Linked DNA regions of Homo sapiens. The protein of the gene in region 1 binds, or shares a complex with, the protein of each later gene. Each region holds a gene or a part of one and is shown on either strand. Other genes may lie near its edges. The genes, in order: VAMP7 and BNIP1.

Region 1 (3,825 bases):
CTGCTTGGAGGTAACTTTGGGCTTCTGGACATGACTGGAGGATGGGGAGGAAAGGCAACTTTATCTGACCATGAACAGGGTAAAGCACCCCCCACCTGTTAGCAATAGTTTTTAAAGTTGTGGTTTAGGACCTCTTTACACACTCAAAAATTACTGAGGACTCCAAAGAGTTCTTGTTTAAGGGGGATTATAATTATCAGCATTTGCCATATTAGAAATTAAAACTTTAAAAATACATAATTAATTTAAAAATAAAAACAATAAACCCATTACATATAAACCAGAAATGTCTTTATTTAAAATAACTACATTTCTGTGAGGTCAGTTTTATAGATCTCTTCCTATTGAGAATATATAATAATTCTCAATAGGAAGGAGGGGTTTAAGTAGAGATATTTCATAGTGACTTCATAGGAAAGCCACTGCCTGGTCATGTGTTTCACTATTAAAAGACATATGTAGCTCATTTCAGAGTGTTAATCATTGAGAAATAATTCTAGTACCTAATTTCTTAGAGATTGAAAAATAAAGCCATACACTAAAAGGACAAAAACTTACAATTGATACGATGATGATGATAATAGTGAGCTTGAGGTTCTTCATACACATGGCTCGAGCAAGATTTCTGCTGGTAGTTTTGAAGGTGACAGACTAGAAAAGAGGCGAGAATTGTTTAACCCCTGGCACTGACTACATGAATGATTTGCAGTAACAACCTGAGAACATTTTACTTCCATTAATTCCATTTAAGTCCAATGACCTCTCTTTACAAGTAGAGACTGGCCATTCATACTCAATAGTTGCCAAAAGCAAGACTCTGCCAGGCCTATCATAAGCAGTATGAGCCCAATGAAAACGCTTCCCTCTTTTTTCTTCTCCACTGCAGCAATGCACATGATGTTGAGCACCAGAAGTGGTTCTTCCCGCTAGTGGAAAAGAATTTTCCTCTCTATACTTCCAATAAGAAAGGCTCTTTTAAAGCCAGCTGACTGCAAGCACATTCGCCTATTCTGCCCCGTATAATTCCGGGGCTTTGAGCCATAAAAACCTGTTTGATTTCTGTAGGAAGATATGTATTTACTTTTGTGAGGGCCAAAACCCATAGAACTTCATTCCTTCTGCTATCCATTTTCTTTTGCATCATCAATTTCTCAGTATCTACTGAACAATTCCCACCAGGACACAAGGAGTTTAAAACAAAATGGCAAACAACCAACCAACAAAACTCCCTAATAATCCAGCAATCCACTCTGGTATGGTCCCACAGATGTATGCAAATTCACCAAAAGACATATAAAAAAATGTTTTGGACAGCACTACTTTTCATACCTTAAACTGGAAACCACCCAAATGCCCATCAACTGTGCAATGCATAAATTACAGGAGAGTCATAACATGGAATACAATACAGTAATGACAATTCACAATCTACTACTACATTTATACAATTTACCACAGATGAATCTCACAAACATCATTTTGAGCAATAGAAACTTGACATAAACAGAATACCTGCTATATTTTATTATTTATCTTGAGACAGGGTCTTGCTCTGTCGCCCAAGCTGGAGTGCAGTGGCACAATTACGACTCACTGCAGCTTTGACCTCCTGGGCTCAAACGATCCTCCCACCTCAGCCTCCTGAGTAGCTGGGACTATAGGTGTGTGCCACCACTCTCGGCCCCTGCTATGTTTTATTAATCTATGTGGAGAAATCAGGACAGTGGCCACCTTTGGAGAAGAGTAGTGACTAAAAGAAGGGAGAAGGGAGCTTCTGGGGTACTGTTCGTGCTCTAGTTCTTAATCTGGGTGTTGGTTCTACATGGTATGTTTACTTTGTGAAAACACAACAAGTTGTATGCTTACAGTTGATGCACTTTATGTATATTATACTTCACATATTGGTTTTAAAAAATCCACTCCCTTAACCATAGATTCATCTCCAACCACATACTCCACAAAGTCTCTGCAGTAGAACAACTGACAGGGGCACCAGTCTTTGGGTTTCACTTCATGAAGACTGCACAGGATGCCACCTGGAGGCACATACCAAAACTGATTACATCTAGAGCTAAATATATATGTTGAATAGAATATATGCATTGACTAGAACTTTTGAGAAGAAACAGCAGTTAAAGTGAGGAGACAAAAAAAGCAATGGGGACAAACAGTCCTTAATGGAACAAAGTTAATATGGGAAACAAGATAGAATAACAGTAATAAAAAAATTTCTAATAAGTATCCTCAGATACAAGACATAATTGAACTAATTTTAAACAAAGTCATCAGAGGACATAAAAAATTAGATAACATGACAACATTCCAAAAACTATATTTTAATAAAATGGCATAATTTTTTAAAAGCAGAACATAAATGAGCAAAAGCAGCTTCTGCAGTAACAATTCAAAAAATTTGTTCTGAAAACAGCAAAATGTCTAGGTTGTAAATCATGAAAGAAGATGTAAGATACACGGAAAACTGATCAAGCAAATCCAGGATCAATTTATACGATCAACAGATATTTAACATGTGCTTATTATGTGCCTGGTACTGATTTACACACCTATTAGCAGTCACAGGAGAGAATACAGCCAAAAGAGAAGGATCAATAATCAAGGGACTAATTGAAGAAAATATCCCCCAAATAAGACAGACTTGAATCTTCAGACTAAAAGGACCTACCCACCATGTGGCAAGAATATTGAAAAAAGGAAAATGTTACACTTTTAGTAACATTTCAGACCTCCAAGCTTTTGTTTCTACTCTAATTTTATTTTTTTCTGCCTTGAAGTATAATTGGCAAATAAAAATGGTATATATTCAAGGTATACAATGTGATATTCTGATAAATGTACACATTGTGAAATTATTACCACAATCAAGCTAAGTAAAATATCCATCACCTCACATAGTTACTTTTTTGGGTATGTGGTGAGAATGCTTAAGATCTATTCTTATAGCATATTTCAAATATTCAATACATTATTATTAACTATAGTTGCCATGCTGTATGTCCGGTATCCAGAACTTATTCATCTTACAACTGTAAGTTCATACACTTTGACCAACATCTCTCCAGGTCTCCCACCCACTGTCAACCACTGTTTTACTCTCTGCTTTTATGAACTGAACATTTTTTTTAGATTCCATATATAAGTGAAATCATACAGTATTTATCTATCTGTGTCTAGTATATTTCACTTAATATAATGTCTTCTAGTTTCATCCACATTTTAGAATTTTTTTTTCTATTCTGTGAAAAATGCCATTGGAATTTCAATAGGGATTGTGTTGAATCTGTGTATTGCTTCAGGCAGTATGAACATTTTAATAATATTGATTCTTCCAATCCATAAACATAAGGTATCTTTCCATTGATTTGTGTCTTCTTGAATTTCTTTCATCAATGTTTTATAATTTTCAGTGTGCACATTATTACATCCTTGGTTAAATTTATTCCTAACTATTGTACTCTTTTTGATGCTATCATAAATGGGATTTTTAAAAAATTTCCTTTGATTCCTGTTCCAAGATGGCCAAATAGGAACAGCTCCAGTCTACAGCCCCCAGCGTGAGCAACGCACAAGACGGATGATTTCTGCATTTCCAACTGAGATACCGGCTTCATCTCACTGGGGCTTGTTGGACAGTGGGTGCAGCCCACCGAGCGTGAGCCGAAGCAGGGCGAGACATCGCCTCACCCGGGAAGCACAAGGGGTCAGGGAATTCCCTTTCCTAGCCAAGGGAAGCTGTGACAGATGGCACCTGGAAAATCGGATCACTCCCACCCTAATACTGCGCTTTTCCAACGGTCTTAGCAAACA
Region 2 (3,825 bases), on another chromosome or scaffold:
GAGAACATTCCACCAGTGTGTAACTGATGCAATTGGCTGGGCGTGGTTGCTCACACCTGTAATCCCAGCACTTTGGGAAGCCAAGGTGGGTGAATCACATGAGGCCAGTGTTAGAGACCAGCCTGGCCAACACAGCGAAACTCTGTCTCTAGTAAAAATACAAAAATTAGCCAGGCGTGATGGTGGGCGCCTGTAATCCCAGCTACTCAGGAGGCTGAGGCAGAAGAATTGCTTGAACTCGGGAGGCAGAGGTCACAGTGAGCCAAGATCAGGCCACTGCACTCCAGCCTGGGCAATAGAGCGAGACACCGTCTCTCAAAAAAAAAAAAAAGACACCATTAAGTCAGCATTAAAGCAGATCCATCAGGCAAACACACGTGCAAGGCTCACAGGCAACAAGAAGAGCCAGCAGAAGCCGCTGGCGGGGGCAGGCCCTGCCTACCTGAGCATCTGCTTTTTGTGATTCTCCACTTCCTGGAGTAGAAGTTGTTTCTCTGATTCTTTGTCTTGCTCTTTAGCCAACTGCTCCAGGTCCTTTGAGGAAAAATAATTCCATGTTAAAATGATTTCAAAAGTCAACATGAAAGCAGAAGAGCATTTCTATTTCTGCCAAGGGCATACAATAGCACTTGAAGCACCCTTTTAAAACAGAACACCTAGGAATGCTAGGTAACATATAACACACATCCTTTTAAATCTATAGCTAAGTCCACAAGGAAGTAAGGAAAACCCCTATGGCCCAAAAGTGGGAAGGGAACAAGAGCTGGAATAGTCAGCCTGGGAGTGATGCACGGCTGTCCTGGCGTCAGAGCTGCTGCTCCTGTCACCTAGGGCAGGCCCGAAAGGAAAAGAAAAACAATGACGAAATACAAGCACACTGATCCCCCACTTAGATATCATTAAAATATCAAACTGCTGTTCATTTCCAGATACTCACAATTTCTGTGCCTATTTAATTAAAGACGAGTAATAGGCAGTTTGAGCGCTTGAAGGTTTGAGAGCTCGTGCAGGGACAGAAAAATGAAGCCCTGAGCCATCTGAGGCTGAGGTTGAGAAGCTGAACTGAGATCACCACAAATCTAAAACCCACGAAAGGTTACAGACACAGGAAAATGGTATAAAAAAATGTCCATCTACCAGCACAGAGGGAAAACATAGATGCTTGCCTTTTTTTGCTATGAGTTCCAAATAGAGGGGTTAAAAAAAAACTCCCCTGAGAATTTATAACCAACCAGGGAGCTGCTCCTTCCACTGATCTAGGGTTCAATTTATCTTCCCTGAGTGGTTCGTGAAACTCCATGAAGAGAAATGAACATAAACAGTGTTCTCGGCCGGGCGCAGTGGCTCACGCCTGTAATCCCAGCACTTTGGGAGGCCGAGGCGGGGAGATCACGAGGTCAGGAGATCGAGACCATCCTGGCTAACATGGTGAAACCCCATCTCAACTGAAAATACAAAAAATTAGCCGGGCGTGGTGGCGGGCACCTGTAGTCCCAGCTACTCAGGAGGCTGAGGCAGGAGAATGGCGTGAACCCGGGAGGCAGAGCTTGCAGCAAGCCAAGACTGCGCCACTGCACTCCAGCCTGGGCGACAGAGAGAGACTGTCTCAAAAAAAAAAAAAATGTTGTCAGACTTGTGATCATCTCAGGAGACCTGGCGGGAAGCTAATGCAAAAACCTCTGTAGAGACTTGGCCTCGACCCAGCTGCACAAAGTCCCTCAGATAAGGTCTGCTAAGATGAGCGCTCACAGTCCAAAATAACCTAACACCAAGGAAATAACCCACTATAAGTTAGGGTCAGCAGACATACCCAGAAGTATTAAACCCCAAGAACTTCAGATAAAAGAACCATCAAGAGGGACTATAATTAAAGATAGCATTATACCAATCACATTTTTTGGTTTACAAATTAAAACAGGTTCTAGCTTCAATCACGCTATTGATCTGAAACATCAATGTATTTGCTCATTTATATACTAATTTACTGATTTACGTATCAATTTGCACATACTGGTTTGGAACAAGTTTGTGTATCCACCATTTCAATAGCACAGAGATGACTTTCAATTTATGCCTCCAAATATTGCTGAGGTAGAGAATAAAAGAAATAATCAACTGTGAATTAGAAAAGTTTTGCAAATGTCATCAATTATTTTCATAATTATTTGTTTAAAATCTGTATTCCCTATTAGAATGTAAATTCTATGGGCTGGGCCTGGTGGTTCACGCCTATAATTCCAGCACCTTGGGAGGCCAGGGCAGGCAGATTACGAGGTCAGGAGATCAAGACCATCCTGGCTAACACGGTGAAACCCCGTCTCCACTAAAAATACAAAAAATTAGCCAGGCGTGGTGGCGGGCGCCTGTAATCCCAGGTACTCGGGAGGCTGAGGCAGGAGAATGGCGTGAACCCGGGAAGTGGAGATTGCAGTGAGCCGAGATCGTGCCACTGCACTCCAGCCTGGGCAACAGAGTGAGACTCCGTCTCAAAAAAAAAAAAAAGAATGTAAATTCTATGAATAAGCAGAGCTGTATCTCACATTATTCACTACATATATTCCTTGTGCCTGGCACATACTGGGCACTGAGTCACTGAATGGAAGAATGAACGCATGGGAAAAGCGGAGGGATTAAAAAGGGGGAGAAATGTACAATTTACTCATGAAAGATTGCCTGGAAGTTCTTTCAAAGAGAACCAGTGATAGTTCTGGAGAAAGGAATGGCGGGGGAGAGCAGTCCTCAAATTCCAGTTTGAGAGCTATATGTACAAAGACAAACACACAGATATTTATACACAGTCAGTGCCCAAGATTCACCATGTGCAGAACACCCAGTTTTGAGGATATGAGGCCAGTTCTCTAGTATCACATGATCTTGTTGGAAATACACAAAAAAGACATTCAAATAAAAGCTAAAAATGGCAAACAAACAGGAATCTTGTATTTATTTCCAGATACAAAAAGAGTATGTAAATACTTAAGAAACGCAGATTAAAACTGGGATGGGGTTATTCATTTACTGGCCATGTGCTTATTAGGTCCTTCCTAGGTGCCATAATAAATATGTAAATGTACACGTATTGGTGAGGTCATTTTAATGAGTGAAGGAAATAAACACTGGGTGGGCACCCAGATGTTTAAAAAGAACATACAAATACTCACACTGAAGGTAACAGGTGTAGTTGGAGAGTTGAAGTCATGCTGAGTTGAAGAAAAGTCTGTCAGGGAATAAGTTAGCTTAAAAAAAAATGTGGAAGCAGTCCAAATAAATGCCCTTTGATAGAGAACTGGCTAAAAAAAAAAAAAAAAATGACAGTTATTTAGAAAAGAATGAGAGACCAGGTGTGGTGGCTCCTGCCTGTAATCCCAACACTTTGGAAGGCTGAGGCAGGCAATCACTTGAGTCCAGGAGTTCAAGTCCAGCCTGAGCAACATGGCAAAACCCTGTCTCTATAAAAACTACAAAAATTTGCTGGGTGTGGTGGCGCACGCCTGTAGTCCCAACTATTTGGGGGACTGAGGCAGGAGGAAAATCGCTTGAGCCTGGGAAATCAAGGCTGTGGTGAGCTGAGATTGTGCCACTGCACTCTGGCCTGGGTGACAGCCCAAGACCCTGTCTCAAAAAAAGAAAAAAAAAGAAAAATGAGGACAGTCTCTGATTACTGAAATGGAAAAATTTCCAATATACGTATAATAAAATTATACTTAACAGTATAAGTTTTGACCGGGCGCGGTGGCTCACGCCTGTAATCCCAGCACTTTGGGAGGCTGAGGCAGGCTGATCACAAAGTCAGGAGATCGAGACCAGCCTGGCTAACACGGTGAA

Evidence for each region.
Region 2: VAMP7 (region 1) and BNIP1 share a complex: the UniProt entries of both Homo sapiens proteins name them as parts of the SNARE complex.

The regions. Positions count from the first base shown.
Region 1 is NC_000023.11:155,936,527-155,940,351, reverse strand, and holds part of VAMP7 (vesicle-associated membrane protein 7), read right to left. Parts: intron 652-3,825; coding exon 559-651; intron 1-558. UniProt on the Homo sapiens protein: Involved in the targeting and/or fusion of transport vesicles to their target membrane during transport of proteins from the early endosome to the lysosome. Required for heterotypic fusion of late endosomes with lysosomes and homotypic lysosomal fusion.
Region 2 is NC_000005.10:173,151,031-173,154,855, reverse strand, and holds part of BNIP1 (vesicle transport protein SEC20), read right to left. Parts: intron 3,291-3,825; coding exon of another isoform or gene 3,162-3,290; intron 535-3,161; coding exon 443-534; intron 1-442. UniProt on the Homo sapiens protein: As part of a SNARE complex may be involved in endoplasmic reticulum membranes fusion and be required for the maintenance of endoplasmic reticulum organization. Also plays a role in apoptosis.